4 linked regions of the Homo sapiens genome follow. The protein of the gene in region 4 interacts with the protein of the main gene of each other region in a biochemical or structural test. Each region holds a gene or a part of one and is shown on either strand. Other genes may lie near its edges.

Evidence for each region.
Region 1: the proteins of WASL (region 4) and PSTPIP1 form a complex in vitro, tested with the Homo sapiens proteins (one study listed by BioGRID).
Region 2: the proteins of WASL (region 4) and ACTR3 interact in a test that uses a peptide from one of them, tested with the Homo sapiens proteins (one study listed by BioGRID).
Region 3: the proteins of WASL (region 4) and ITSN1 form a complex in vitro, tested with the Homo sapiens proteins (one study listed by BioGRID and IntAct).

What each region holds. Positions count from the first base shown.
Region 1 is NC_000015.10:77,026,106-77,033,140, reverse strand, and holds part of PSTPIP1 (proline-serine-threonine phosphatase-interacting protein 1), read right to left. Parts: intron 7,026-7,035; coding exon of another isoform or gene 6,969-7,025; intron 5,342-6,968; exon of another isoform or gene 5,290-5,341; coding exon 5,227-5,289; intron 4,588-5,226; coding exon 4,489-4,587; intron 3,613-4,488; coding exon 3,567-3,612; intron 2,640-3,566; coding exon 2,560-2,639; intron 1,962-2,559; coding exon 1,863-1,961; intron 844-1,862; coding exon 747-843; coding exon of another isoform or gene 713-746; intron 280-712; coding exon 189-279; intron 1-188. UniProt on the Homo sapiens protein: Involved in regulation of the actin cytoskeleton. May regulate WAS actin-bundling activity. Bridges the interaction between ABL1 and PTPN18 leading to ABL1 dephosphorylation.
Region 2 is NC_000002.12:113,956,073-113,963,107, forward strand, and holds the end of ACTR3 (actin-related protein 3), read left to right. Parts: intron 1-1,287; coding exon 1,288-1,383; 3' UTR 1,384-6,524; downstream 6,525-7,035. UniProt on the Homo sapiens protein: ATP-binding component of the Arp2/3 complex, a multiprotein complex that mediates actin polymerization upon stimulation by nucleation-promoting factor (NPF).
Region 3 is NC_000021.9:33,897,474-33,900,369, reverse strand, and holds the end of ITSN1 (intersectin-1), read right to left. Parts: 3' UTR 509-2,896; downstream 1-508. UniProt on the Homo sapiens protein: Adapter protein that provides a link between the endocytic membrane traffic and the actin assembly machinery. Acts as a guanine nucleotide exchange factor (GEF) for CDC42, and thereby stimulates actin nucleation mediated by WASL and the ARP2/3 complex.
Region 4 is NC_000007.14:123,745,996-123,753,914, reverse strand, and holds the start of WASL (actin nucleation-promoting factor WASL), read left to right. Parts: upstream 1-4,911; 5' UTR 4,912-5,180; coding exon 5,181-5,297; intron 5,298-7,919. UniProt on the Homo sapiens protein: Regulates actin polymerization by stimulating the actin-nucleating activity of the Arp2/3 complex. Involved in various processes, such as mitosis and cytokinesis, via its role in the regulation of actin polymerization.

The sequences.
Region 1 (7,035 bases), on a different chromosome or scaffold from region 4:
GGGCTGAGGGTTCCATAGGCTGAACTGAGCCTATCTTGTCTCCACAGAGTGCCCAGCACCTAAACTGGGCACCAGATACAGACACATAGTAGGTGCTCAGTGAACGAGGAAGGGCCAGGTGCAGAGGAGGGGCTCGACCCACTTCCTGGCCCAGCCTTAGGCCCTCCCTCCGTCTGTCGGGGCCTCACCTCTTTATCATGCCGCAGGACGGCTGTATGCCAGGGCTGCTGGTCAGCGGGGTGACCTCCCGATCGTAATAGTTCTGGTAGGGCACCGGAGCTGCAGACAGCAAGCCGTGAGCCCCAGGGCGGCCCCCAACACCCCATTCTGGCCCTGCCAGACTCAGCTGGGGCCCTACATTCCCAATCTGGCCCTGGCCCATCCTGGTGCCTGAGGAGGTGCCTGTCTTGCTCCCATGAGAGACCCCACCGTAGGTACCATCAAGACCTAATATTCTGGACCCGTGATCCAGTGGAACCAAACAGGCGGGGAGTGGGGGCCGTGGGAGCTCCTCACCTCAATCCCCATCCCCACCTCTTCCTCTGAGTGCCATCATGCCCTTAGCTTTGCCTGAGAGGAGGCAGCAGGCCTGGGACCCAACTCCCCACAACCCCTGCTAGGGCTTCTCTGCCCTGAAGGGAGCTGTGAGCTACCCCAGCCCGGTCCTGGCACTTGAGGCTCAGGGCCGGGCCTTCCCAGGGGCTCAATGCACCTAGAGGCTGCGCTGTCCGCAAGCCGGACCTCACCGGGGGGCTCTGTGCCCGTGCTCTTGGCCTGGATGAAACTGTCGATGTCGGCGTCTATGCTGCAGCCTTCCAGCGTCAGCCGCACTTCCTCGTAGAGCTGGGGCAGGAAAGAGCAGAGGCCGCAGCCCGATGCCCACTCTGCCCCTCTGTGGGCCTGAACTCTGACCAGCGGCCCCCACCCACCGGCCTCCTCACAGGCCATTGTGCGCGGCTCGGGGTCTTTGATCCTGAGGGGTCACGGCCCTGGCTGACAGCTTCCTGTTTCCTGAACACCTTCTGTGTGCAAGGCCCTGTGCAAGGGACTTAACTCACACCTGTCCTCTAAGGTAGACCCCACTTTTCCCATTGGATAGATGAGGAAACTCAGAGGAGAGTGACTTGCCCAAGGTCACAGCGAGAATGCAGCACAGCCAGGCCTTGGGGCTAGGAGAGTGGGTCCAGAGCTCGCCCTTCTACCTCAAGGAGGCGAGGAGGCAGCAGGGGGCTCGAGTCACTTGGGCAAAAACAACAAGAAAATCAACCCCCACAGCCCCGGACAGGAGCGTCAGGCAGGAAACACAGCAGGCAAGGGGGCCAGGGCTGCCCGGGAGAGCCGTGTGCTGGGCTGCATCCATCCACAGAGCTCAGGGACCCTGGCTGGGGGCCCTCTCTGCTGGGGAGGACCCACCCAGCAGGTTGGGCTCAGTAAGGGGAACCAGGACACCCTGGAGATGTGGGGAGCAGAGGAAGGACTGCGCCTCGGCTCCTGCAAGCACCAGGCCTAGAGCAGAGCAGCCACGGTCCTCCAGCTTCTGCCAACCTCTGACAGCTGTGTCCACCTCCCCTCCCATCCCCGGCAGAGGGGGCAGGTGCTCTGTGGCTCTGAGGCATAAGGAGGAAGTCAGGGGAACCACAGAGTCATCATCTTCCAGGCAGAGAAGCCATGGCCCTGTGTGGTACTGAGCTCCTGTCTTGGGGTTCTGGGGGCAAAGGCTGAGCTGCTGAGGCCTGAGACCCCTGGGGCCAGGCTTGGATCACAGAGGACCAGGTGCTTGTTGACCGGCTCAGATGGACCTGGGTGCTTTGCTGCCTAGAGGCTGCCCTACCTTACCCCACACCAAGGCCCTCAGCCCCCACCTCATCATCCTTGACACACTGCATGGAGAGCTGGTTGCTGTGCACCCACAGGGCGTTGCGGAGAATGGTCAGCCGGTCAAACTCTTGCAGCTGAAAGGCCTGGGGGCAGTGGGAGGGAGGTGAGCAGTGAGGAGGCGGCTGCAGGGCCCGGCCAGGCTGGGCCCCATTCACAGCTCAGCCGGAGCTGACCAGGCCAGCCCTCTCTGCTGGAAGCCCAGTCCAAAGGAGAGAGTGCCCTGGGGTCCCCATCCCGACTCCGGGCCAGCCCTGAGGCTGCAGGGAGGGAGGTGGAGATGCCCAGGGGGTCCCTGCCCCAGCCTCCCTTCAGGCTGCACCACACCGAGGCAGAAGGGTAGTGAGAGGGACCTCGGACGGGAGTCCTGAGCCCTGTTCCCCAGGCCCTGTCCATCGGCAGCACCCAGAGAGGCTGTGGGTTTAGTCCAAGTCCCAGTTTTGGCTTCAACAAAGAGGGTGGAAGAATGCCTGCCTGCAACGAAGGGGCCCAGGACTCAAGGCCAGGCGACAAGCAACAGGGCCAGGGCCCAGCACAGGCCTGTGAGCAGGAGGCTGAATAAACGAGTGAGTAACAGGTACCTTCCCCAACTGCCTCACTTGGGCCCCTTTAAGCAGCTGGAGTAGGGATGGGCGTCTCACACTTCCCAGCTGGGGAAAACGAGGCTCCACGTGGGCCACTCACCTCACAGGTGGTCCGGTGCTCCTGCTCCCACTCAGCCCGGACCTTCTCCAGCTGCGCAATGCTCTGCCTGTATACCCGCTCTGAAAGCGCAGGCAGCCTCAGGGAGGGCCCTGACACGAGCTCCTCCACCCCTGTACTCCAGCAGGTCCCATCCTGGATGCCTCCTCCCACTGGGAGCCCCGCCTCCCCCATGGGACCTGCCCTAGCAGATGGCGGGGCCTCATCTGAATGCCCGTCAGGGCCACCCACGCTGGTGCTGCTGCTGCTCCCCAACTGTGCTCTGAGCTGCCTGAGGGCTGGAGTGGAGCCTCATATATGCAAGTCCAGAGTATTGGCCTCTGGGCATCTCTGGGCGCCCCACCTCACTTTCCAGAGGGGAAACTGAGGTTCAGAGAAGGCAGCTGAGAGGGCGCTGGAGGAGGGGTGGAGTCCCACAGGCTTGGGTCACAACTTCTGTGCCCAGATCTCTGGAGGTCACCTGTCCCCCAGCCGAGGGAGTAGCTGAGTCCCAGTAAAGGCAGAGCAGAAGGGAGAGGCCTTCCCAGGGGAAGGGAGGAGGGTGGGTGCTGTGTCTGGTGGGTGGGGCACCAGCAGGGACAAGAGTGTTGGTAGGATTCGGGCATCAAGTGAAGGACAGAGGCCCAGAGAAGGCTATGTGCACAAGTCCTGGGCTCTGAAGCCCGATGGCCTGGGTTCAAATGCAGCTGTAACCTGGGGCAAGTACTGGACCTTTTAGTGCCTCTGTTTCCTCATCTGTTAAGAAAGGGAACAGTAACAGCAGCCACCTCGGAGGGCAGCTGTGAGGACTGAACACATGAAGCGCCAAGAAGGGCTGGCGAATGGGGGAACACAGCGTTTACTTTGACGGCACATATCTGGAATGAGAGCGCCGCGCCCATGATTGTGCAGCCAGGGGGAGTGTGTGTGTCCCCAGGGTGAGGAGGTGTGTGTGGGGAGTACCGCCCAGGCCTCCGCCCTGGTCGGACGGGGCAGCCAGGCCCACATACCTGCCTCGGTGGCCGAGTCCTTGCACTGCCTGGCTTTGTTCTGACTCTGAGGAAACAGAGGGGAAGCAGCGCTAAGCCCCTGCCCCAGGAGCCAGGGCCCACCCCAGCAGACCTGAAGTGACTGTCAAGCTTCCCCGGCCACCCTGGGGGGAACATTCAGGAGCCAACTATGGGCAGATGCCATCATCCACAAGCAACCTCCGCCCACAGAGGACCACAGGCTAGCTCCATGGAAAGAGAACGAAGACAGGAACCGAGCCCAGGAGGATGCCTGTGAAGAGTGAGACCACAACCCACAGGAGAGGTGCAACTACTGCTGAGCCCCCTGGCTGGGACTTGGGCTCTGGCCCCTGACTGACTGCCCCCAGCTCACCCTCAGGCCACTTCCCTCTCTGGGCCTCAGCCTTCCTGTCTGTGCAATGAGTGATGTGTTTCCTGGGCTCTGGGAGCTCTGATACCCCCACTCTGGCCTAGGGGCCACAGCATCAGGAGCATGGGCTCTAGACCACCTGAGTTGGGGGTCCCTTTTCTGCTGCTTCCTGGCTCTGAGACCTTAGACAAGTCACTTACTGTGAGCCTCAGTTTCCTCTCTGTGACATGGGCCTACTGAGCCCTTCTCCAAGGTTGTGTGAGGGTTGGCGTCTGCTCTCATCACCCTGTGGGCCTCAGTGGGCCTGCACCGAGGAATGGGTCCCTGAGTGCCGCCTGACGGTGGCAAAGGGGATCCAGCTGACCTGCCTGTCCATGGCCTGAGGTTCTCTCCAGGAAACCCATTTCACAGATGGGGAGATTGGGGGTCAGAGAGGGCTAAGCAGCATCCCCAGATGCAGATCTTGCCTGGGGGTGTCTACGGCACCCCTTCCTTGCCTCCCCCACTGCCCCCAGCCCTGGGCGACCCACACGGCCCAGCAGCCCAGCGCACCTTCTCCACCTGCTTCTGGTGGCCGTTGGCGCTAATGCGCTCGAAGGCCTGCTCCGCGTCGTCCGCGTCCCGGCACTTCTGCTCGTATGTCTTCTTGGACTGGGGGTGTGGAGGGGCGTGACTTGGGGGCTGCACAGCCCTGTTCTGTGGTCCCCGGGAGTGAGGCTCCCTTAGCCCAGCCTCCCTTTTTCCCTGGCGAGGGTTGCGGGTGGAGTGGGGGCATCCTCACCAGGGACAGGGATCTGGGGGTCCGGAAGGAGATAGAGAAGGCGTGGGGGCTGCTGGTAGTCCTGCTCTCAGGCCCTCCCCACTGAGGACAGCGCGGCCTGCCCCGGGCCCCGCCTCCTGGGCTGTGCTCTTCGGCGAGGGCACGCCCCTCGCCACGCCCCTCGCCACGCCGCGCCCTCTTAGGAGCCCCTCTCCCTTCCTGTCCAGCGTCTCGCAGGATCAAGCTCAGGGGTCCCTCCTCCCTCCACCCCTGGAGTCCCCAGCTGACTTCATCTGCCCTTCATTCACGAGCCCCACAAGGGAAGGGCCCGGGACCATCCCCACGGGGCCATAGCGCCCAGCACGGGCCCAAGCGCCCCGCAGGCTGGTGCGCCCAAGGCCGAGGTCCGAGGACCAAGGCTGAGGTCAGCCTGTTCCAAATGCCCTGCCCGGGGCCACAGCCCAGGATCGCACCCTGAGACCTGCGCTGCTCCTCGAGGGAAGGCCGCGGCCCCAGGCCCTGGCGCTCACCTCCATGGCCTTCTTGTAGAGCGACAGCTTGCTCTTCTGGACCCGGTCCATGACGGCCTCATACTGCAGGGGACACGAGGTTCTGAGCCGAGGGCCGCGGCCTCGGGAGGCTCCCCTAGGCCAAGAGGACGGAGTGTCCCTGGGATGAGGCGCAGCACCTCTCCTGGCTCTGGAGAGAGGGTGACAGGCTGCCCTCCCTCCCCCAGAGCCTGCTGCTTCACAGTGACCCTCACAATGGAAGGCCACAGAGAATCACAGGGCATGGGTGTGCCGTGAGGTCCTTGCTGCAGACCTTGGCCAGAGCTTCGTCTCCAGCTGGGGAGTTCCCACCCCAACACACGTGCGCACACAGTCGTTCATCCTGCATCCCTGAGCCTCTGCAGGCATCACAGTCGCTCACACGTGTGTGTACACTCTGGCACACACATACATGCAGAGTTCCACATTAACTCGGAGGCACACAGGCCCCATCCCTAGCTGCCCACACGCATGATCACAGGCATTCCTGTGCACACCCACAGATGCCACTCACAAGTACACACTCCCACAGTCACCCACACACAACCACAGGCCACATGCAGGCACAGTGGCCACTGGGCCCCTGTGCCGAGGTCTGGGGCCAAAGCCTCCCCTCACCTCCCAGGCTTCCTGTTCTGATAGAGAAGGCAAAACAGCCAGGACAGCGACTGGGTTATGAGGTAGGAGGAGAACTGAGCCAGTTTGTGCCTGGGGTCTCAGGGGAGGGGTTCTGTGCCAGCTGGGAGACCAGCGAGGCACAGGCACTCACACACACACAGCACAAAACACCCAAGTGCACAGGGCTGGACAAGGACACATGCTCACAGGCATATGCAGGGGAGCGTAGGCACGTGTGCACCATCCTGTAAGCACATGTCCTTGCTCTGTGGCACACGCACATACACACACAGGCTCAGACACACATGGCACACACTACAACACAGCGCTCTGCCTGCGGGGCCCTGGCCACTTGGAGAAAGAATGCTCTGTCCAAAACAGCCTTTGCAGCCAGTGCAGCTCCTCTGGCCACAGGAGGGCCCAAAATAGCAGGGCCGGGGTCCCTCCTTCCTGGCAGGTTCTCTGCAGGCTCTGCGGGCACGTCCCAGCTCAGAGAGGGTGCCTGCTCCGGCACCTCAAGCCTGGGCTGGCTTCTGGGGACCCCCTGTCTGCTCAGAACCCCACATTTAGAATCCTGAAAGCCCAGCTGGCAGATGGGCAGGTGGCACGGGCAGCCACGCTACATTTCTGCCAGCAGAGCTGCTAACCAGAGCTGGAGCCCTGTCTGTGGAGACTGAGGGGCGCATGGCTTGGGCTGAGCTCCCAGCACTTGGGAGGTAGACATATGTGTCCCATCCTGTGAGAGGGAAACTGAGGCACAGAGATGGGAAGTGGTATGGCCAGGACACCCAGGCCTAGCCTGGCCCCAGCCTCAGGTACAGCTTCTTCCCCTTCAAGGCTCAGTTGTGACTTTTCATTTTCAATTCTTTGGCCACTTCACAACGATCCTTCCTCCCCAGGCAAGAAGCGGATCTGTGTGCTGCCCTGCCACCCTGTGCAGGGCACCACCCTCATCACTAAGGCCCTGAGAGGCTCAGCCCCCATCCTCACAGGCCCAAGCCCAGCCTCCAGGCCAGTCTGCGTCCTGCCTGCCCTCCAGGGAACCTATATCCAACTTCAGCCCTGCAGCCTCCCTGACAAGCATCTGCCAGCCTCTGCTTACACACCTCCCATGATGGGGACTTCACTTCCATGCAGTCACTCTGTCTCGGGACAGCCATGCCCTACATATGG
Region 2 (7,035 bases), on a different chromosome or scaffold from region 4:
TTGAGATGAGGTCTTACTATGTTGGGCCAGGCTGGTCTCAAACTCTTGGGCTCAAGTGATCCTTCCACCTCAGCCTCCCAAAGAGCGCTGAGTTTACAGGTGTGAGCTGCTGCGCCTGGCTGAAGCTTATGTTTAAATTTATATATATATATTTAAGATAGAAGAGTCCATCAATACTTGGAGAAGAACAAAGCAAATTCCTTTAAATTGTATCTCAAAATAATAGGAAACTTTGTATATATGTGTTTGTAGTATTTTAAAAATTGGAAGTAATTTAAATTTAATTGGAAGTCATTTGAATTTAATTTTTTTTTTTTTTTTAGCTTGCTAGACATTATTTTAGAGTGACCATTTTATACTATGTTTTAAAGTTTATCTGTAGGGAAAGTTCTGTTAAAACTGGTAATTTAGTCATCAGAAGGTCCTTGTTTGTTCTGTTTAAGTATTTAAAAACATTAAGGTAAAAGTTAAGCTTCATTGCATAGAAAGTATGATGTTTTACACTGAATAAAGGGAATTATTCTAAGAATCCTGTCCCCAAATTAAAATGTCTTTAAAGCCCCCTAAAAAGGTGTTCTAGTGTTCTAATACCATTAACCTAGGAAGTATTGGTGCTTTGTTCTGGTAGTGCATGCAATATTAAAATGAAGGAGCTTTTATCTGAATTATTGAATAACTGTACAACTTTGGATTTAAAACCATTTCCAACATAAGAGGTGAAAGTTATTTTTTTCCTCAATTTTAGTCTTCTTCAATTGGGCCATATAACCTAGTTGAGTTTGTGACTTTGCCTTGAGAAATGAGGTAACACAGCATGGAACAGTCTATCTTTTCCAGACCTTGAATGAGGAAGGCAAATGATCTAGACATTTCTTAGAACTAGACGAAAAATAGTCATAGCATGACTAGGAGTAGTTTTATCTGTAGTTAGGCGAATGCCGCTTCTTTACATTATTGGTGCAATGAAAGTATGGGAAAGTCTCAACAGAACAGACTGGACATTTGAGAACCTTCCATTTTTCAAAATTTCAGAATCCTCGCAGCAGGTGTGTGAGACAAGGATTGGGGACAGGAGTTAATTGCTCTTTTGGAGTTCCGATAAAGATTTATAGCTGATTTTAAGTCATGGCTGCTAGAATTTCTAAGCTTTCATGCCATGAATGGACTAATAATAAACATTTTAGACTTAACATCTATTTTAAAGCATCACTCTTAAAGTTTATTTCAATATACCTTCAAGATGGTAGATTTTTGACCCTTATAAAAATACATATTTTTTGTTTTCAGCCTGAGTTCTACCAAGTATGCCACACCAAAAAGGATTATGAAGAAATTGGACCTAGCATTTGTCGTCACAATCCAGTGTTTGGAGTCATGTCGTAAAATTGGCTTCATAGTTATTGGGGTTAGGGAGGTGGGGAAGAGATAATCTTTCTGATTACCTGTTTTGTCTGGATGGCTGGTTTTGAGGTTTTAAACCTGACTTGAAATAGTAACACCAAACATGATTATACAGGAATATTTTAATAAGTGTATCACCATGCAGATGTAGAAGAGAGCGAAAGTGATTGTGTTTTTCTTTAGATTGAATATTTGAATCTTATGTGTAACAAAAAGAAGTGGGTTTTAGTTCTTTCTGTGCCCTGATATTTTGTATATTAATGAATTATCCAAGATTCGATGGGATTTATCAGTGTGTAGATAGCTCTATAATGCTTGAATTGTACACTTCTAAGTGTGCAGTGCAAGAGCTTGTTTATATTTCATACTTTTTATACTTTGAGGAAAAAAAGTCAAAGAAAAATTGTATTTGAGGGAAAAAACCATGACCAAGTAAAGGATAAATTCAAAAAATAGCCTCATGAGACTTGGCATACACACTCGTGGGATTCCAGTTATTATGGAGTGCTTCCATCCCTCTCCACCCCTTCCCCCCAAAAGGTTTTCTTTGCAAGTGCTTTTGGAACTAAGAGCTAGTATCTTGGATTAACTGATGCCTGCTAGTGCTTTCTGATTACTCGCATTCTGTTTCTTGCTTTAAAAGAAGAGTAAAGACAAGAGTGTTGGACCAGTATTGCAGTTCTGTAGTGTCATTTCTTATAAAAAACAAAACAACAACAATAATTTATCAAAATTGGCATATTTAAAGCCTAACATTCTAATAAAGGCACAAATTTCTTTTTAATACTTGTTTCAGCCTCTTTAATCTCTTTATAAGTTAACTAATAAATCTATTTTCTTCAGACTTCTGCAATAGTTCTTTAAAATCACAACAGTTAGCAAGCTGACTTTTGTAATGTGCTCAATACAAATACTTGTGAACTTTTAATATGTTGAGTGCTTTCATTTTGATAACTGGATCTCCATTTGATATTTTCATTTGTATAACTCATTTGCAGTCTGAAAATTTTTTTTAGTGCCAGTCCCTGAACATATCATTGAAAGTTAATTTTCTTTGCATTTTAAAATATCTGGATTATGAAGAAAAAGTGATGAAAATAAATTAAAACTGAATTACCTTTTCTAATGTTTTTTTTTTTTAAGTAATGTAATTCTATTTTGTTTTTATGTATGTGATATCTGTTTCTGTTGAGATTTGGGAGTTATTGAAATCTCTGTAATGTGTATGGTAGAAAATTTCTTGTGACCTTAAAATTTTACCAGTTATTTATAGAAAGAGAAAATGGGAAATGTTTTATAGGCTTTTTACTAGCAGTATCAGTGAACACTTGAACTCCATTATTCATGAAAATAACACGTTAGGATTGGAATACGTCTATTCAAAAGTGAAAGAATATAAAGTGTTTAGTTTTTTGTTTTTACTCTAAAGATAGAATTGGGGAGTAAACTTCAGTTTTTGTTTAGAGTGGATCTGAATATTTAAAATCCTATAATAATTTTTGTGAATCTTCATTCTTTGAGTATGGGATTGTAAAAGACAAACTATATCCTACAGTAGTATCATCATCAGTATCAAAGGTCTCCTTTTTTTACTTGGAAAAGTAATTCACAAACATTATAAAAATACTATTCAAACAGTACCAAAGAGTAGATTAGCAAAAGTAAGTTTTTTTCCCTAGCCTGTCTCATTTTTCCATCATTACACAGACTACTTGGAATGTCTTAGATGTCCTTGTATTGTAATTTTCTGTGTAGGTAGAAATAAATGTAGCTTTCTTATTTTACACAAATAGGAACTTACTGTATATACTGTTCTGCACTTTGCTTTTATTAAAGATCTTTTGATAAAGAACTATATTGATAAGCAGTAAAGATGTCATGCTCCTGGCCCAATAAAATATTGTTAGCATTGTCATAAATATGTCTTTTCCACCGGCGATGGTTGGGTAGTTAAGTGAATAAGCTAGAAAGACATGTTTATAAAGCTATTTGATGACAATCTCAGGCATATTTATACAGAGATGTTCTTAACTGTTTGCTACAAAAACATGAAGATCAAAAACTTTCTTGAAGCTTACGCTTAACTTATTTGGGGAAACAAAACTCCAGCCCTTCTTGTGTATGTTCTGATATCCCTTTGCTCTACTTTTAGAGGAGTGAACCCTAATAGGATGGTAGCAGCATTCTTGTTTCTTTATATCTCTCCTCTGTGATTGTATACCGTTTTTTCAACTTAAAGCAACTTCAGCTGGAAATATGTAGAGGTTGGCCAAGGTGAACTAAATAGTCTGTAACATTGATTAGATATCAAGCAACGTGAGCATGGTAGCAAAAGCACTAACTGAAGCCAGTGATTTAATTTTTAATTCTGATTCTGATAATTGATGATATAGCTCCTCGAACTTTGTTTTTTGTTAAAACTTGGAAAATATATTTGTATTATTTTGGACAAATTATTTGAACTCTCTGGACCTTGATTCAATTTATATATAAGGTAAAGGCATTATACTGGATTATCCTGCAATTTCTTTGAGTTGTTAGAATATAATGTAGCTTATTAATAGCAATATTAGCAGTGTAGTAGATTCTGACTGCAAAACCTAGCCTTTTCTATTGATTCATTAGTGGTAGTAAAGGTATTATCTGATTTATCCTTTTTAATAGGCAGTGCTTTGATCAAGTGGGAAATAGTAATGGACAAATAAAATCAATGATCATTATCTAACTTGATGCCTGCTTTTCAAAAAGTGAGCAAATTTCACATCTTCACCCTTAGACATTAATTCATGGCACCTACTATAAGTACTCATCCTCTTCTTACCTATCTTCTTTTCTATAGGAGATAAAGTGGTTATTCAGACCCCCCAATACAATTTTTTGGTTTGTTTTCACAGCTACTTAAAAGATTAAAATAACTATTCTTGCAGATATTTCTAGGAATATTTTTAGAAATAATATGAAATACAGGGATAATAGGCCAATTATGATCTTTATTTTTAATTTCTACAGAAAAGTACTAGAGAATATATCTATAGAAACTTCTTTCAGATAACCCTAAAGATGATACTAGAATGTTTATAAAATTATTGAGAAGATTATTTGTGTTATAAAGCTTATTTGTACCATAGTAAAGGATGTTTTTGTTCCTCTTCATTCTGGGCTAATCTGTCAATACTGAAGTCCAGTCTTTTCCCCCTTTTCTTACCAGCTCAACCTTGATTCCTGTGACCCATTCTTTCTGATCTTTCGTAGTTCATAGTCACCAGGCATGAGTACCTTGGATAGCCCTCTGAAGTCTGTTACCACCCAGATTTCCAACTCGGGTTAATTGGTACTAATTCTATTAGCTGGTATAAATAATCCAAAATCTGTGCAGACTCTGGGAGCAAAATGTTCTACTCAGTTTGGAATACTGTGCCTTAAAATATATTTCATTGTAACAGCACCTTGTATATATAGTTGGCCAAGGACAGAGTTGTTACAAGTTACGTGGAACTTTCATAGCAAATCTTGACAGTAAATACCTTGTTCTTGTATTAGGTCTATATCCTGAATTGACCTTTAGCAAGAATCTTTAGATCTGCTGGAGGGCTGGGATGGCTTTTGGACTTCAGTGAAAAAGAATTTCTGCTACTCATTGTTGATAACGCTTCAGTACTGTATAAATGTTTATCCTTTTCCACGTAATTTGTTTTCTATGATATGAGAACTTTTATTATAATTTGCCTCAGTCTTGATAGAATCTTAACAAAAATAAAATCTGTGGTCGTCTGAGGTATTCTCCATGCTATAACCCAGTTTAGCTGATGCATTTGGAGCTTGGGTGCTGAAATTAAATATAACCTATTTGAGTTAAGGATTTATTACTAGTGCTCCAGTGGTCACAGGAACAATAAAAAAGGAACAACGATAGAAATACGTGATCTAGGAAAGAAGGCAACTGAAAAACCTGAAAGAAAAAAAATGAAAGATTAAAAGTATACGATATTCTATTTTGATTTAGCAATTACTTGTTTTCTAGTGTTCTGTCAATTTTTGGTGACTTTTATAATTACATTAAAACTAAGATGCTGAATTAAAATAAAGTTTCTCTTTTATTCAAGCACCAACATTCACTTATATTACCTATATATTGCATCAAGTTTTGAGCCTTCAATCCCAGAAGCATTGATTGACTGTCTACTGTGGTTCAAGTACTGTGCATAAAGATGAATAAATATTCTGTCCTTGGCTTAGTCTAATAGTAAAGGCACTCTTAGAGGAGGGACAAATATTTTGCCTAGATAAGATTTGAGAGATAGTAAGTGCGGAATTTCTCTTCATAAAAATGGTAGTGTTAGTTGTTTAGAGGGAGAAGTCCAGCTATGTAAGGTGAAAGTGGGGCTTATAAAAGTGGATCTATTGTTTAAAAATTAGTACTTTGCTCCTAAAATTTTTACCTAAGTGTTACATCCAACAACAGATGAAAGTAATTCGACAGTAGCATCTGCTTTATTCATTTCATATTTCCAGTGCCTGACATATTGCTTGGCATATAGTAGTTTAGTGGATGTGTTTGATGAATGAATGAGTAAAAATTATTTTTCATGTTAAAATAAAACTTTGAATTACATGAGTATACAACTTTTGTTCCTTCAAAATACCCATATTTGTCAAATATGACCGAATTACGACTTTTTTTCTGTTCCACTAGTTTCTACCTTAGAAGTGACATTCTGCGTAAGGTAGTGGGGGATTACTAAGTGATCATGACTTTTCTGAAGCAGGTCTTAAATAATTATCTAAGCCTTCAGTCATTTCAAAATCTCTGTAGTGTAAATGATCACAGGCTCTAAATCAGATTGTTGTACAAGGTAATTGACATGTCCTGAAATGTAACATTCAACATTAACAGTAGAAACAGGCCTCATTTCTCCCTCTGGCTTTTATTGATCAATTTTGATATTGTCCAGATCCCATGTTAAACCACTTGATTTAGAGATGACTTAATTCTAAACTTCCTCCATTTTTAATTAATAAGATTCAAGGTTGCAGTAAATTGTTAATCTTATTTGGAATTATATTAGAAAGTCGATATCGGAATTGGAACCACACATCTTTTTCTTATTGTGGGTACATGGGATCTTTCCCAAATAAATTCCTGAGCAACAAGAAAATCTGAGACTTGTTTTAAATGCTAAAATGATTAGTTGGAATAATGTATACATTCATGAGATGACTAAAGCACTAGTGGGGTAGTTTCTACTGCAGTAGACTGATTTTTCTTAGCCCAAACCTTGAAAGATGAATGTTTTAGTAGATGGAGAGTAGGTGGGGATGATATTTTAGATATGGCAGAAGCAACTTGAGTTACAGCAATTGGGGAGGGGATTAGAATATTGTGATTAGGAGAAGTGAGGAGAAGAGTGGGAGAGAAGACTGAAGGATATCTGACACCTTCAAACACACCCTCAAACACAAACATTGGCTAAAAAAGTTGATGCAGTTCAGGGTGAAATCACACACATGATTGACATAAATAACATTGTGGAAAAGTGACTTTGCAAAGACCACACAGGTAGTTGCAGAATAGAACTTACTGGTTATAATTTTTTTGATATTTTACTGAATAGCATATGGTTTATTAAATTTTTT
Region 3 (2,896 bases), on a different chromosome or scaffold from region 4:
GTGATGAAATAGGTAGGAATGGCCTTAAAACCAGAACAGGAGGAAACAACCTAATACAATTCAGCGTTGGGTTTTATGGAACGCAGAATTATAGATCACCCAAGTGCTGAACACGTGGAGTTACGTGTGTTAGAAACTTCTTCCTGGAAATTCAGCGACCCTTCTGAATGTCTTTATAAGAAAATCAGCTTTTTGCACCGCCCTCTCAACCCCACCCTCAGAATTTCTTATGCTGTACAACACAAAACTTCTCCTGTTCTCACAAAGACTTCGTACACAGAAATCTATTTCTGCTTGGTGTTAGCTAACATTTATCTGAAGCCGCAGGACAGCTGAAAGGGTTGTTGGTTGGTTTTGTTTTCTAGGTTTATTTCTGCACAATTTTCCTTGCACAGCTACAATCTTATCTGTGGGAAGAGGAAGAGACACCATTTGCAGGGCTGTTAGCTTCCTGTGCTCTCAGAAAAGAGTGAAGCAGAAAGAACCCAAAATAATCCACTATAACAGATTGGCTTTTCTCCTTTTATTCATGAACTATTTGAATTTAAACCACACAGGTCAAAATGACCAAAGAGTTGTTTTTTGTTTTTGTTTTTGTTTTTGAAGAGATTGTTCTTTTTAGGTTCAAGATACACAGGAAGAGCAATTTGTACTGATGTTGCTACTGGTTTAAAGAAAGGTCTCAGTTACCATCATCTTAATCGGTAAAATTTAACATTTCACACATAATAAGTTGCCAAAGGAACACTCAAACAGCAAAAACAAACCTCAGCTTCTTTCAAACAAAAAAGAAGAAACAATGTTTTGGCCCTGCTTCATCAAACCTTTAGACAAATACGTAAGTCTACAATTTATAATAGTGTCTAGTAATTCTTAGAATTCCATTAACATTACATATCAGACAATATAGTCTCTCTTTTATGGAAAATTAAACAGTACCATTATTTGGCAACAGAAGTATATTACAATCAACAGCACATCCATCAAGGGGCGGGCCTGGTCCTACCCCTGGGCAGGGCTGTGAGGGAAGCAACATGCCACCAGCACTGTGGCCCGCTTGTCACTGGAAGCACAAGGAGCTCACGTTCTGATGGATTACATTCTTTTCCAAACAGGCAAAGGCTATCTGGGAGGGTTCGCTAGCACTCCTGGGAAGGGAGGGCCCCATGTTCTAGCTTTTCTTGTCCCCAGACTTTTTTGAAACAACCAAGGCCCAAGGGACAGTTGACTGGCTGACTTGTTTCCACTCACAGCCCTCTTGCCACCCCAGCCAGAGGGCATCGTTCTAAGGAAGGAGAGTCAGGGCCTGTTTGGGGTTGGTAGACCAGAGCTCATCTCCTCTGCTGGCAGGCCTTAGGTGGCCTTCCAAGGCTGCGCCTGAACAAAGAAATCTCTGAACAGCTCCATCTTTGGGAATAAAGCCAGTTATGGACCACATGGACAGTGCCTCTAAGTGATTTGCAGATTATTCATGCACCTAAATAGATTCCAGGAAGCTTCCAGAAATCACAGCTTCCCATACTCCTGAAGTCAGCAGCTTTACTGGTTCGGGCCTCTCAAAAAAGGGGCTCCAGTTGCTGGTTGACAGCATTAAGATGCACGCAGCCTGTTCAAAGAAATGTTGAAAACCTAACACATTCTTCAGATGTCTTTTCAGACCACAGGCCCTCAACCTTCCACCAGCGGTGTCACCCCCAAACACAATGCATTCAGATCACCAGAAACCAGCTCTTTTTGTTACTGCAGTATTTCCAGGCTGCCAGGGGAGGCTGGACTCCTGGGGTTGCCCCCTCCTGAAATCATTTCTGAATGCCTTTCTCAGGGGTTTAGACATTGAGTTTCACAGAATCCTCCTTAGGTGGCCTAAGGGGCACTTCTGGTGGCCAAGTACAGAAAGTCTGTGCCCCAGAAGCAGCCTGGACTTCTGATCCTTTTCTGGGAATGCAGACGGGAGGAAGGCATCTTCCCCCTGGGGTCTCCATGGAAACATGGGCATCCAGAAGCCTGCCCCAAAACGGCTTAACTCAGAAACCCTAAACCATCCATCCACCCACCTGGCTATGCAACAGTTGAAGACAGTGAGGATGCATCAGGAAATTTCATGGAAAACGCAAACGCTAATTAGGGATAAACTGAATCAATCCAGATACAGAAGTAGAAAGGGCGACCTGGAAGTCAGAGAGTGGCCTCTCTAGTGGGATAGCTGCGTCAGCCCCAGATCCCTAACAAATCCACTAGAACCCAAGGAAGCCTGCGTGGCACATGGATCTGATGAAAAACAGGCTCCCTATCCTCTCATCCTTCCTGACACAAGTACCCTCTCAGATATGTGATCTGCAAAAATCCATTTTTAATGCAACACCAAGGTCCCATGCGAGGTCATAGCTACAGGATACTTTTCATTTGATCACGCCACCATCCATTACACTGAAATTTATCATATTTCCTGCAGGAAAAAAAATGACTCATTTGATTTCTAACATATACAACTTGGAATTTTTTTTTAATATAAGAAATTTAGTTGAGTTGAACCCAAGTAATCTCATTAAGCATTTTCTACTCTTGGAATAGGTTTTAAATTTTTTTCTATAGTTTTATGCACTTAAATTAGATTCCTAAAATACTCTCATATACATACAGAAAAATAATCTCTCAATGACAAATCACATTTTACAATAACAAGTTAAATATTTTTGACTACAGAATCTGTGTTAGTTTATGCAACATTTAACAGCATGGCCTCTTACATACCATATATACATTTAGTCATGGCCATTCCATAAACATACAGCAGAGATTTCATGAGGAACATGAAATGAATACAACCTTTTCCCTTTATATAGTGGGAGTTCGCCTTTTTCTTAGCTGGAAACAGCACAGAATGTAGAAAACCGGA
Region 4 (7,919 bases):
GGGTCTAATACAGAAAGATAAAGGGAAATCCCAGGATAGTAACTCAATAAAATTCCAGACAATAGCCATGTAGCAACAGTACAGATTAATATGGGATGATGGATGGCTTTGGGAGACAGGTCTTTGATTAAAATTAGTGAGTCTAATAGATTCCTGATACACTTGATTATGTGGAAAATAATATGAGGAAGGACTTTATAGTTCTTAATATAGAAGAAATAAAAGAAATAAAATTTAAGCAAATTATTGAGGGGGGTAAAATCCAACAAAGTTAAAGTGGTCCAAGAATGTAACTTCTGTTTTATGCTGTTTTAAGTTTTGTACTACTATTTGATTTTTTAAATTATGTGCATTTATCATTTGTATAAAAATAAAAATTGATTTTAAAAATGTTACATGGTAGCAGAGACCATATCCTTGACCCCAATAATTTCAATGTGGTAATGGGGACATGTGGCATCTTCAAATTTTCCCAAGTATCCAGCCTGCCTACTCATTTATAATGTAGATTGACCTTGAGAACATTACAATAAAGAAATCAATGTTGTTCTCTCTCATTTGGAATAATAATAAGCCATTGAATATTCATTAAAGTTAAAGAGCAGCCAGAAAACCATAAGCAGCATCCTGGGAACTATAACATACTTAGCTCTTCAAATCATTTCTTGATTACAGGTAAGTACTAGGTATTTGGAGACTAGGACATATAATGGTAGTAACTATCACTGGTAATTTTGTAGCATGAATAAGTGTTCAATTTTCCACTAACTTCAATAAGAAATCAGAATGATTTGTAAATAAACTATTTATTCCTAAAAAAGAAAGCCCCAAAGAGGTTTGTAGTTAAAATGAATTTAAAAAGGAGAGGCAGAAAAAAAATGGTGTGCTAGCTTACTTTTCAGAATTTAGTTGATGAAAAAGAAAACAATTAACATTTAACTTGGGATAACATGTACTAGAATAAATTCTTGTAAGCATTGCCATATGCAACATTTACATAAAAATGTGCAGATATTTTACAAGACGAACATTTTAGACACATGACATTTCTGGAGGTTGCATGGGAGAAGTAGCACTCATTGCCCCTGCACTTTTTCTGCAAATCCAGATTTGCAGTATTCAGATTTGCTGTTGTTCTGTCTCTATAAAATCAGTTCTGCCATAGCCAAGCAGCAATTATGGCTACAATGGCTGCTGAATGCCGTGTGCTTTCAGCCACCTTTATATTCCCCCACAGTAAAGGGTGTCACTACATTTTAAATTATTAACATTAGCAAGGGGAATAGGGTGTTTCAGAGGACTTTTAACAGTACATAAACAATGACATTTGTAAAGAAGAAAAATATATAACAAAGAACCGTAACAAGAGAAGCTTGCAAAGTACCCATAAGGATAACAGCAGGAATGTATCTGAAAATATGCTCTCATTTCCATAATAAGCTACCCTAATGTTTTCTGTTAAAATGAGGGCTTTACCTTAAAAGATCATACCAAAGAAAGAAGAAAATGAAGTACTAGAATAGATGCTAGTTGAGGTAAGGAGAGTCAAATGGAAGAAATTAAATGTAAGAATTGCCTTTTTTTTGTTATATTCATATACACCGTAATAAAGCTTTTTTTCACAGCCCTCTCCCACTACTCTTTCCTGTCTTCAAAATAGGTTGGTGGTCTACAAGCTCTGAAAGCTGGTATTTCTAGCATATGCATTTTATATGTATATTAAGATAAAACCCCTAGTCTTCTTAACAGCGCTTACAAACTTCAAGATACTCTGTTGAAGGGAAACAGAATGCTTATGTCCTGGATAAAATCCAATCTCTCAAACTGGGTAAAAAAATTTGAGATAAGGAAATAACTTGCCAAAGAAAACAGAGAGAAAAGATGTCTTGTGTTCTGCCAAACAGAGGATATGCTATCAAGAATGAAAGAAAGGACTTGCTAAAACTTTTGAAACAAAAACAGCCAGTACTGCTTGGTCTCAGGATGAGTATGGAAAAATAGAATCCTTTATGTATGGTAAGGAGGGAATCCCCAAATATTGCTTGTTCACAGGCTTAAATGAGTAAGGAAGTCATATTTCCAGTGAAATGTTCATGCTTACATTTTCCACATCAAGAGTTGGAAAAAGCCCAGAGAAAAACAAAAATAACAATGGAGGGTAGAAGACAAGAACTTAAATTGCAATTTTGTGGACAAAGGACTATACTAAAAATTTGGAGAAAAATTAAAGAAAGGTTGGACCTGAGGAAAAAAGTCTACTGTGGTCATCATTTTCCATCTCCAAGTCTAAAGAAAACAGAAAAAGGGCAAATAGTAAAAAGAAAATTGCATTTAGATAAGTCATAAAATTTCCTGAAAGAAAAGAAAATCAAAACAATAGATAGTCTAGGCTAGTAAGAGGTTGTGAAATGATTGGAACTCAATAATTCTCAGAATGAGATAAATTCTTGAACGCAGCTACTGTCCATTCACCTATCATCTCATGGCCTTTTTTTTTTTTTTCACAGCCCTCTCCCACTACTCTTTCCTGTCTTCAAAATAGTTTGGTGGTCTACAAGTTCTAAAAGCTGGTATTTCTAACATAAAATTTGCTAATCTTTCAGTTTTTATTAAATTAGAAGCTAATAGGATTCTATCTCTGGATTTACAGTTTTAAAAAGTTTTATTTTGGCATACTGGGATATATGTAGCCTATTTGATATAATATATGGCCTAATCAGAAATTCTGCTATCAAGTTCTTCACTATATTTTTGAAAAAATATGTACAATTGTATATTTGAAGGACAGTTTTTGAAGAGTCAGAATTAGAACAAAGGTAAGAATACATATATTAAGTCTTGATCCCTTAGCTCAGGGAAAGCAGAAAAGACCATAGGCAAGGACTGTCAATGGCCGACAACTAATACTTGAGTAACCACTATGTATCAGGTACTTTACATGTGATACCTTTTTTTAATGTCTTATAATTTTAGTTTAAAAAAATTTTAATACACAATAACTGTACATATTTATGGGGGTACATAGTGATGTTGCAATACATATAACATATAGTGATTAGGGTAATTAGCATATCTATCATCTCAAAAACTTATGTCTTTGTTTTGGGAACATGCAATATCCTTCTTCTAGCTATTTGAAACTATACAATATTGTTAACTATAGTCATCCTACAGTGCTACAGAACACTAGAACTTATACCTCCTATCTAGTTGTAATTGTGTATTTTACAACTTTGAAGTAGGTGTAATTATCCCTATTTAGACTATACCTGTATGAAACAGAAATTATTTTCATTTTACAGATGAGGAAACAGACGCAGAGAAGTAATTTGTCCAAAGTCCATAGGGTTGTAAGACTCATAACAAGAACTACAACTTGGGCCTATCTGAATCTTATACTTCTGGTACTATACTTGTTCACAGGTTTGAAAAGAGCTTTAATTTCTATTATTTCTCAAGAATTTGTAATGCTTTCTCTTGTCACTGTGCTTTCAACTTAGAGGAGTTGCAGTTTTGATAAAAGACAAACTGATTTAGCTTCTAGGTTTGTTAAATATGTAATTCAGAGGCAACTCCAGGCTTATATTTCTACGACTGCTTTCTAAATCTAATTATTTTATAAATAGTCCTGTTGCTTTAATTCACTTTTTACCCTAACATAATTAATCAAGTTTAACTTTGAAATCTCCATATTTTATGTGAGAACTCCCAAGGCTATCCACTTTTATTTTCCTTTGTAAATTTATTGTTGCTCAGCCTATTTCATTAATGGCAGCTTTAATTATAATATTTTATTATATTTTCAAAGTGCATGATAATGGTTTACCAGTCTGGTTAGTACATCAGAGATTTCTATTGGGAGCTATCAGAGATGTTAACATCCAACAATTTTACCAAAGTGTAATTGTTATAGACGTCTTAACATGAATTTACGCAACAAAAATATGTTTAATGTGGAGAACAGTGAGATGCATATTTGATAATTCACTGCAGTCTGCATCATCATCTCTATATTCCAAAATTTCGTCTTAAGCCGTTTAGTATTTAACTTACAGAAGAAAGGGGGTTATCTTAGATAACTTTTAATATCCTAAGGTATTTTCCAATTCACGATACAGGGAGAAAAGAAATGTGTCCAGGCCCTTAGAAGAAAATACTTTGAATTTAAATGTGACACATACATTAAACCCGCGTGACACGCCAGGCAGGCGGTGGAAGTCAAGTGCATTTGTTTTTGTTTCATCCACCAGGGCGATCTCTTTCACAATTCTGGGAGAGGCCTGTTTGTTCCTCCACTCCCACAGCTGAAGTTTGGGACAAAGTTTGAGAAAATCCCAGGCACCTGCGGCTCCTATCGAAGCCGGCGAGGAGCACAGGGTAGAGCGTCTCTTCCCAGTTTTCAGTCTTCAGATCGCAGGCCTCTCGGACCCGCAGAGCGAGCTTCACGCTGCAGCGCTTGAGAAATAAGAGCTATTCCAAGGAGGGGCCCTGGGTCCTCACTGACGCTTCGCAAAGGTGTACGTCCGCCCAGGGAAGGCCGGCGGCGCAGCGACGGCGAGGAGTCCCCATCCATCTTCTCTTCAAGCAGCAGTAGCTGGGTTCGGGTACCCAACCGACGAGCCGAGACGCCAGAGGCCAGAGTACGAAGTTGGAAGCCTGCGCCCCAAGCCAACCGGGATTCCACTTAGCTCCGCGCGGTCCGCGCCTCGGCCGGAAGGGGGCGTGGCTTCGGGCCCGCGCCGCGAGGCCCGCCGCCGAGTGGGGGGGTTTCTCCCGGGCCGCAGCCGCGCGTTTCCGGCGCGCTCCCCCGCGCCCTCCGTCCTGTGGTCTCGCCCGCCCCCGCTGCCATGTTGGATTGTGCGGCCGCCGCCGCCGCTGCGGGAGGGTTGGGGGAGGAGTTGGGAGTTTAGCGCAGTCGCCGGAGTGCGAGGACAACGACCATCCGGCCCTAGCCTGGCCGGGCGGGTGCCGGGAGCTTCCCTTTCTCAGCGCGGCGCGAAGGTGGCTCGCCGTCAGCGCCTGCTTCCCTCGACCTCGTCCTCCTCCCCGCTCCGGAGGAGCTGCGAGATGTGGCGCCTCTGACTCCACTTCTCCCCGCCCCTGTCACCGAGAGGGGGAACGAGCTCTCGCCCACTCGCCGGAGGAGACGGCCCTGGACTCCCAACCCCGCCGGCGAAACCATGAGCTCCGTCCAGCAGCAGCCGCCGCCGCCGCGGAGGGTCACCAACGTGGGGTCCCTGTTGCTCACCCCGCAGGAGAACGAGTCCCTCTTCACTTTCCTCGGCAAGAAATGTGTGGTCAGTGGACGAGACCCGCGTCGCCACCCGTGACATTACCTCACGGGCCCGGGCTTGGGGGCCGGGAAGTGGGAGTGGGGAAGGAGGCGGGAGCGGCGCGGGCCAGGCCTCCCGCCAGCCCCGGCCCCGGCCCCGGCCCCTCGTCGGCGCCCTCGCCCTGCTCCCAGGGTGCGGGCCGTGGCGGTCGGGCGCCGCCTTCCCGAGCTGCTGGAGAATAAGGGAGTGTCACCTCCGCAGGCCTGTCCTCCAGCCTGGCCGGGCCTCGGCCCGCGCCCTTGCTGCTGGTTAAAACTTTATTCTCAGGCCACAAGGGGATTTTCTTGCAAGAGCCGCTTGGTCCTAGAATCTGGGCCCTTGTTCTAGCTCTCGCTTCACCTCTTACTGCTTGATCTGGGGGTACGTTCCTTAACAATGCCAGGTTTGAGGAGTGGATAGGTCGGGGAAGGAAGGTGGTTTTTAATCTCCCATTAGGATTCCAGGAGGGAATGAAGTCGAGTGCAAGAGCCTGGGCTCTCTTCGGATTAGAGAGGGTGCAAGAAATGTTATTGCTCTTCGTTAAAGAGAAACAAGATTTATTTCTCTAGCAACCTTGCCTAGGCCTGGTTTCTACTCTCCTTCCCACTGATTTTTTTTTTCCCCCCATTGGTGGGAGGGGGTGCTGCTCTCCCCGCAGCCATGCGCAGGGAAACCTCAATCTCTGGTAGCTCTTGGCTTTTGGGGCCGAGAATGATTCTTAGTTTGGTGCTGTGCGGCCAATTCCAACCCCAGATGGCCGGTTGGGAGCGAGCAGTTCTGCTGTGGGAAGGGGAATGTGTGTTGTTGACGGAAGCATTCATTACATTGGCTGCTGGCAATTCTGGGGGTGGGGAGGTTCTGCTCTGTGGTGTAGGCCTTGTCGGGATCATACTGCGGTGACTGGGTTGAAGTGTGGTTTGTTGAAATACTGGCTGGATCCCTTTCTCTCCACTTTGCTAGCACCTGCAGAGTATGTGCCACTGGAACCCAGAAAACACGGAAATTTCAACAAAGCAATACCATTTTATAACTCCTTTAAGTAATATTAGGTATGCCAAACCAGATTTCACCTGCTTCTTTAAGAAGTTAGGATTAGACAATTTCTGGAAAGTTATTGGATTCATTGTTAACTTCATAGGAGTCCACCCTTTGTATCTTGTGCCATCCGGTTGGAGATTGAATCGTTCCATTCAATTTCAGATGTGTTTCATATTTCGGAATTTAGACCTTAGAGAACATTGAGTTTCCTGATTAGAAGGATGAAACAAGAGGAGTGGCTCAAAACGAGAATTTTGGGTAACAACTTTAAGCCCCTCCCCATTCACACACACTTTTTTCAACAAATGAGAAAACTGATCCAGTGAGCCCAAGTCATACAGCAATTTAATAATGTAACCAGAACTAGAAAACCAGGACTCCTCACACCTAGTCCTATCCCATTGTACTTTGCACTACATCATGTTGTTTTAGAAGGGTATTTTTTTTTCCTGTTACTGATTTATTTCTAAAAGTGGTGTTAAAGAAATAACCACTTTGCCTTTTTCACCAAAAACTAATTAAAATACAAGATTCTTAAAGCACCACTAATGTTTGCATATGCTCAGTTTAGGAAAATCTTCAGCACTTTGAATGTTAGTTACCTCCAATGAAAAAAATTCAGTTGCTGGTTTAGTAGATTAGCTATGTAACCTGTATCAAAAAGGAAGTAGTTGTGCTGTGTTCTACATACCAGACACATTAACTTTAGGCAGAAAGGACATTACATTTATACACAAGTATACTAATTGTTCTGTGCTTACCTGTAGTTTTACTGGTTTCGAAAAATGGCAGATGGGGAAAAATACTGTGATAGAGAAAAATGATGTTGCACATTGGTTAGTGTAAGTGGATTGCTGAATAGGCTCTCAGTATTCAGTGCTTAATTTCTTTATGCCATCTTTTATTAATCAACTGTACCTTTTGAATTTGTCATTTAAAAACCACACTTTCAGTTGTCTGCTTTTGTGGGATGAAGTCGTTGCAAATACTAATTTCAATATTTGAAGTCCCTAGTTAATAGAGAGTGAAGTAAGAGTGATATTTTAATTTTTGAAATAATCTTTTCCTCCCTTGGCTGATTATTCAGGTTGTTTTTGTCCTTTAAAACATTACTGAAATATATTGTCTCATAATAAATCCAGCAGTAAGATTTACAGGTCAGACCAAATGTGTTAGGCAGAAGTATACTCAGTACTCAGAGCTCTACCTAAGAATTCAAGAAATGAAACAGAAGCAGTTATAGTCGAAGCTCTGGAGGAGCTTCATTTCTTCTTTCATTCAACAAACATGTATTGAATAAATGTTGAGGTCAAAATCTGGAAGGGCTGATACTTGTCCTCAGGGAGCTTACTAGGTCTAAAAAGGGAAACGTGTAAACTGATAAGTCAGTGCTTCAGAGTGATGTGTAAGAGGCTGCTTTTCACAGTAGAAAATGCCTTGGCTTTGTAACAGCAAATGTGGGTTCAAACTGGGGGTCACTTTGGACAAGTTTCTTGAGCTTCCTATCCTAGATTTGGTTTTCTCATCTGTAAAACAAGGATACTATCTCATGGGGTAGTTGTGTGGATT